Homo sapiens: one gene and its partner. The protein of the gene in region 1 purifies or fractionates together with the protein of each later gene. This does not show direct contact. Each region holds a gene or a part of one and is shown on either strand. Other genes may lie near its edges.

Region 1 (3,500 bases):
CATGAGGTGCTCGTGAGAGGTCACGTGTTGTGGGAATGTGAGAGATTCTGGTGTTCTCCAAAGCCAGGGGAGGTGGCCCCACTTGGGGCTCAAGGGTGTCCTGGTCACAGGCATGCAGGCACCCTCGTGTGCACACGTGTACACACCAGAGCAGGCGGGGATTTGGGGCACCCTGCCCTCACCTGTGTGCAGCATGGGCAGCAGAGTAGCTAGGTGCCCATCGTTGGCCTCGGGCACGATGCCCAGCAGCCGGCACATGAGCTCGTACACGTGGACGCTCTCAAAGGGCTCCACCTCCAGGCCCGCCCTGAAGCTAGGGCCCACAGCGCGGAAGATGGTCTTCATGTCCATGTCCTTGTTGTCAAAGCCGTGCTCCCCATTGTTGAACTGGACGTTAATTCTCTGCCGGGGAGCGGGCAAGGGTCCTGGGTCCTTGCTGGGAGCAACAGACCCTCTCCGCCTACCCTATCCACCCTATGAACACCCCCTTAGGAAGGAGCACCAACGTGAGGGCTGGAGGGGTTCCAAGACTCAGTTTCCCCGAATTCTGAGCCTCCAAAGATCAGTCACCCTAAAGAGTGAAGTTCAGGGAAGGTCCAGTTAAATGAACGGAGACCAGACCCTGAGTAAATGGGAGTGGAGCGGGCAGCTCCAGGCTTCGGGGCCTGCCGCCTGTGCGGTGTTGAACGCTGCCTCCCATCGGTCACTTCCTTTCCGGGGATGTCTGCTCCCTAATCTGTGCTTCGCTTCCGGCTCAGCATCCCTGTGCTGTCTGCTGAGGGGAGGTTGGGCTCCTGACTCTTTCCTACCTCTTCCATGTCACCCTTGGGGCTGGACTTCTACACTTTACCCTGGACACGTAGGACGCACACACACACACACACACACACACACACACACACACACGCCTATCACACAGTGCCTGGTCATGATGGATACAGACGTGCACACACACTCCCACTGCCTGGTGCCTGAATGTGGAGGGCACACACAGATGTGCACACACCCTACCGCATAGTGAAGGAAGTGTCCCTTCGGTGCTGACACTCCTCAAACTGGGGACCAGCTAGAAACAGGAAGTGCCTCTATGGAGATGGAAGGAGAGGCCAGACGCAGTGGCTCACCCCTGTAATTCCAGCACTTTGGGAGGCCCAGGCAGGAGGATCGCTTCAGCCCAGGAGTTTGAGACCAGCCTGGCCAACATGCAAAACCCTGTCTCTACAAAAAAATACAAACATCAGCTGGGCACAGTGGCTCACACCTGAATCCCATAACTTTGGGAGGCTGAGGCGGGTGGATCGCCTGAGGCCAGAAGTTCGAGACCAGCCTGGCCAACATGGTGAAACTCTGTCTCCACTAAAAATACAAAAAATTAGTCAGGCATGGTGGCAGGCGCCTGTAATGCCTCAGAGGGCTGAGGCAGGAGAATCGCTTGAACCCAGGAGGTGGAGGATGCAGCGAGCCAAGATGGCACCATTACCCTCCAGCCTGGATGACAAGAGTGAAACTCTGTCTCAAATGAAACAAAACAAAACAAAACACACACAAAAATTAGCCAGGCATGGTGGTGTGCACCTGTGGTCTCAGCTACTCAGGAGGCTGAGGTGGAAGGATCGCTTGAGTCTGGGAGTTTAAGGCTGCAGTGAGCTGAGATCCTGCCATTGCACTCCAGCCTGGGCAACAGAGCAAGACCCTGGTCTCAAAAAAAAAAAAAGAAGACCCAGAGCCTGGGGAGGGAGCCCCTGGAGGTGGTGCCTCCAGCAGGCGACTCACCCCATGGATGACGTAGCCAAGGTCGCTGTACATCAGCAGGGGTGTGACCCTGGGGTTGTTGGCGTAGTGGAAGGCCTCGGGGAACGCCTCCTTCTTGTAGACGTGGAGCTTGGGGTGGGCGTCCTTGAGGGCATCGTACACCTTCTCCAGCCTCCCTTCTTTAGGGAGCAGCATCCCGTTTGGTCCGTAGTCCAGGAGCTCAAACTCGATGTCCCGGAAGGTGAAGTTGGGGAACTTGTGGAATTCAACCAGGTCGCCAGCCCGTTTGTCCACGGTCGTCATGCCGTGGTCGGATGTGATGATCAGGTTGAGGCGGTCTGTGAGGTGGTTGCGCGCGATGCTCTCCCGGAGGTAGCCCACGGTCCGGTCCACCTGCCGCACCATCTCCCTCCTCTCCGGGGACTCGGGGCCGTACCTGTGGCCCGTGGAGTCCGGCTCCCCGAAGTAGAGTGTGACCAGATCCAGGTCCTCCTCTGTGAACCACGCCATCACTGTGTCGATGTTCGCTCTCCACTCCGTCTCATTTTTGTAGTTGTGTGCGATGCCTTCTTTCCGGCTCCGCGTCACAGCCACCCCTTGGTAGGTGACGTTCCCGCCCGGGTAGAAGAAGGAGCCAGCCCTCAGGCCCTGCCAGACAAGGCAGCGTGAAAGACAGGACTCCTCAGTGGGCTGCCCCTTGTCTCATGCCTGTGAACACATTTGTCCCCCACGTGCCTACTTCTCTGTTCCACCCACCCATCCCTGCTCCTAGCTGCAGCTGCGGGGCCTTTAATTTCTAAAACATCCCTGATCTCATGTTCTATGGGGGTAAAACCTGATTTTATAGAGGAAACAACAGGTGCCCACTGGACTTGAGCACTAAACAAGACATCAGTATAAAGATGTTCCCAGAGGCCGGGCGCAGTGGGTCATGCCTGTAATCCCAGCACTTTGGGAGGCCAAGGCGGGTGGATCCCGAGGTCAGGAGATGGAGACCATCCTGGCTAGCACGGTGAAACCCTGTCTCTACTGAAAATACAAAAAAATTAGCCAGGCGTGGTGGCGGGCGCCTGTAGTCCCAGTTACTTGGGAGGCTGAGGCAGGAGAATAGTGTAAACCCGGGAGGCAGAGCTTGCAGTGAGCGGAGATGGCGCCACTGCACTCCAGCCTGGGCGACAGAGCGAGACTCCGTCTCAAAAAAAAAAAAAAAATGTTCCCAGATACGCAGTGTCTGCCTCATCACTGTCCATCCCACCTGCCCGTCCACTCCCCCAGGATATTCTTTCATTGGATCAAGAGCCTTGTGATGCCAGGGTCTCTACCTTGGCTTCCTGCTCACCAGCCGGTGGAAGGAGCCCTGAGTGTGTCTATGATCCTTCTGGAGTGAGGGAACCCCGGCTTGAGTGGATAACTTGGCTCTGGGGTGGGCATGGGCTCTGACATTTATTCCAGCGTCATCTTGGAAACCTCCACTGACTTTGTTTACTGGAAGCCTCGCCTCTGGGCCAGGAAGCCCCCAGAGCATTGCAAACTGGGGGTGGGTGGGGGGGTTCCTGGGTCAATACTGTAACCCACCTCTCATTTTGTCTTTGGCCCTTTAGAATTTAGCTGTTCAGCTGTGACAGGGATGTGGAAAGGGAGAAAGTCGTCTAATTGTTAAATGCTTTCTTGTTGAGTCACAGTGATCTTCCCTGTCCGACCCTCACCCCCAATGCTGCAGGGCCCAAGGGTGCAGTTCTCCCTCCGAC
Region 2 (3,500 bases), on another chromosome or scaffold:
GGAGGAAATTAGAATTTTGGAAAACTTGCACCACTCATAGCGAACAGTGTTCTAAAACTTAAGACTTTGCAGAGATTGGTGGTGATATTAACAAATGTGATTTTTAAAAATGCTTGTATAATAAAATGTGTCAACATGTGGAAGATCTGCGTAACGATGAACAAATATTTTCCAAATGACCAGTAACGCTACAAAACCAGGCATGGTAGAAGATCCATTCCAAGTATAAAGCAGACCTGCGGAGTTGGGCAAATTCATCAATATGATTTCAGATTGCATAGTGTAACTATTCTTTGCAAACTATCACTTATGAAGTTTCGGTATCAAAGAATATTCAACTACCTGAAAAACTATTCAAGTACTCCTTACTTCATTAAAATAACGTTAAGGGAATGAATTCAGGAGCAGAGATGAGAATCCAGCTGTTAAGACATTAAAAGATACCTGCAAAACCGTGAAACACCTTATCAAAATTGCAGTTGCTTTTTTGGCAGAAACTGGCAATCTAGTCCTAAAATTCAATATGGAAATGCAAGGGACTGAGAATACCCAAAAACATCTTCAGAAATAATAAAGTTAGAGGACTCATATGCCCCTATTTAAAAACCAGCTACAAAACTACAGTAATCAAGATCGTATGGTACTGGCAGGACAGACATACAGATCAATGGAATGAGTGAGTTCTTCTATTGACGGTCACTTCATCTCGGACAAGGGAATTCAATGAAGAAAGAACATTATTTTAACAAAAGAAGCTAGGGCAACTTGATATCCACATGCAAAAGTATAAAGTTCTATCCCTCCCTCACATCATATACAAATATTAACCACAAATAGATCACAGATCTAATGTAAGAGTTAACAGGATAAAATATCTAGAAGAAAATATAGTAGTAAATCTATATGACCTTGGATTAGGCAATGGCTTCTAAGATGTGACACCAAAAGCATAAGTGGCAGGAGAAAAATAGATATATCGGCCTTCAAATTAAAAACTTTCTGCTTTGAAGGACACCATCGAGAAGGTAAAAGGACAACCCACAGACAGGAGAAATTATTTGCAAATCCTATGATACCACTTCACACCCAATAGGATGGCTAAAATGAAAAAGGCAGTGTAACAATTGTTGACGAGAATGTGGAGAAAATTAAACCCTCATACATTGCTGATGGGAATATAAAATTGTGCAGCTGTTCTGGAAAAAATCTGACAGTTCTTCAAAATATTAAGCACAGAGTTAACCATAATGACCCAGCAATTCCACTCCTAGGAATGTACCCAAGAGAAATGAAAACATGTCTACATAAAAGCTTGTACAGGAATGTTCAAAACATTATTATTCATAGTAGCCAGAAAGTAGAGCTCCAAGTGGTGTCTCACACCTGTAATCCCAACACTGGGAGACTGAGACCAGAGGATTGCTTGAGGTCAAGAGTTCAAGACCAGCTTGGGCAACAAAGCAAGGTTCCCACCTCTACAAAAAAATAAAAAAACTAGCTGGGTGTGATGGCGCACACCTGCAGTCCTAGCTACTCGGGAAGCTGAGGCAGGAGGATCACTTGAGTCCAGGAGGTTGACACTGCAGTGAGCCATGATAGCTCCACTGCACTCCAGCCTGGGCAACAGAGCAAGACCCTGCCTCAGAAAAGTAAATAAATAAAAAATAATAGCCAAAAAAAAAAAGAAAGAAAAGAAACCACCCACATATCCAATTGACAAATGCATAGAAAAAATGTGGTATACTCACATGACAGAATATTAGTCAGCACTAAACAGGAAGAAGCGACATATGCTACAACATGAACGAACCTTGAAAACATTATACTAAGTAAAAGACGCCAGCCCCAGAAGACCACATATGTATGTTCTTATTTATATGAAATGTCCAGAGTAAGTAAATTCATAGAAACAGAAAGATTAGTGGTTGCCAGGGGCTGACAGGGAAGCAGGATGGAGAGTGACTGCTAATGAGTACAGAGTTTCTTTTTGGGGTGATGAAGTACAGAGAGATATAACCCATATGGACAGCAAAATAACATTTGGCACTGGAAAGCCATAATCAGAAATCTGAATTCTGATTATGCTCTTGTGCAGAACAATGAATGAGACTGAAAAACAGTAATTTCAAGTTTCAATACAAAGTGGGCACTTCAGGACTACCCCCACCCACAAGTATACAACATCAGAATATTAAGCACCTGAATATACAATTTCACATACTGGTAGATGTCATACATAGCAAATATTGTTTTGCCTTTCAATTTTTCAATAAAAAGTGTCAACAAATGATAGGTTAACTTAAAAAATAAACAGTAAGTCAGAATCTGCTGGGAACAACCAAATATTTAATGACATCTTTCCTCATGAAGACTCTAAATACTACCTAAACATTTTGACAAAGTAATAATTTGAGTACTTTTGCTGAATTGCCTTCTTCCAAACCACAAAGCTGTTTCATTTTCCCCCTATGATCTTTCACATGCCTGTGATCCCATCCCTCTTATTAACTGTATGTAAGAGGCTTATATATGACAACCAGCTTTTAATTATGGTCTAATGGTAAACTAGGTTACCAAAGCTCTCTGTACAGGTAAAATCCCAGTGAAAGATGTACCAGGCTGAAGACAGTTTACGTAACACTACCATTTTAAGTTGAGTTACTTCCTATCGCGGGACTACTCCGTTGTGGTAGAAATAACGGAATGTCAGGGAGCTGGTACTTTTGGCCATCACGGCAACAGTTAATACAAAGCACTCCCTGAAAGCCAGACTCCCAGAGTTATAGGTGACGTGTCCTTAAAAGCTTTAACATTGTAAATACCAGGAAAAGTACAGGGGACTGGCAGGGAGAATTGTATAGACTACCTGAGAATTATATTTTACCTATTGGTAGTTCTGACAACACTCAAAAAAAAAGAAAAAAAGAAAACGGAAAGCCAAGTAGTGGGCTGGGTGCAGTGACTCATGCCTGTAATCCCAGCACTTAGGGAGGCCGAGGCAGGTGGATCACGAGGTCAGGAGTTCAAGACCATCCTGGCCAAGATGGTGAAACCCAGTCTCTACTAAAAATACAAAAATTAGCTGGGCGGGGTGGCAGGCGCCTGTTATCCCAGCTACTTGGGAGGCTGAGGCAGGAGAATCGGTTGAACCTGGGCAGCAGAGGTTGCAGTGAGCCCAGATCCCGCCACTGCACTCCAGCCTGGGTGATAGAGTGAGACTCTGTCACAAAAAAAAAAAAAAAAAAAAAAGAAAGCCAACTAGTTAAACAAACATAGCACTTTTTTGTTTTATCTGAAGACAACTTTAAAAATAAAGTTTGTGGCATGACAAATCACAATGACAAGTATCCTACTAGTCAAACTGGCTTAATGTATTTAATCAAGAGAACATTCTAAGAAAGGTGTGGAGGCTTTTTATGTGGCTCTACCCCCAGAATATAGGACAAACAGCTCAGCATCACAAAATACCACAATCTAGAAACACAGGTACTCAAATTTCT

What was found. Proteins that work in one complex are often made in the same cells at the same time.
Region 2: the proteins of ENPP7 (region 1) and RHEB purify together in Homo sapiens (affinity purification with mass spectrometry; one large-scale study listed by BioGRID and IntAct). This does not show direct contact.

Annotation. Positions count from the first base shown.
Region 1 is NC_000017.11:79,733,943-79,737,442, reverse strand, and holds part of ENPP7 (ectonucleotide pyrophosphatase/phosphodiesterase family member 7 precursor), read right to left. Parts: intron 2,401-3,500; coding exon 1,774-2,400; intron 403-1,773; coding exon 183-402; intron 1-182. UniProt on the Homo sapiens protein: Choline-specific phosphodiesterase that hydrolyzes sphingomyelin releasing the ceramide and phosphocholine and therefore is involved in sphingomyelin digestion, ceramide formation, and fatty acid (FA) absorption in the gastrointestinal tract.
Region 2 is NC_000007.14:151,513,396-151,516,895, forward strand, and holds part of RHEB (GTP-binding protein Rheb), read right to left. Parts: intron 1-3,500. UniProt on the Homo sapiens protein: Small GTPase that acts as an allosteric activator of the canonical mTORC1 complex, an evolutionarily conserved central nutrient sensor that stimulates anabolic reactions and macromolecule biosynthesis to promote cellular biomass generation and growth.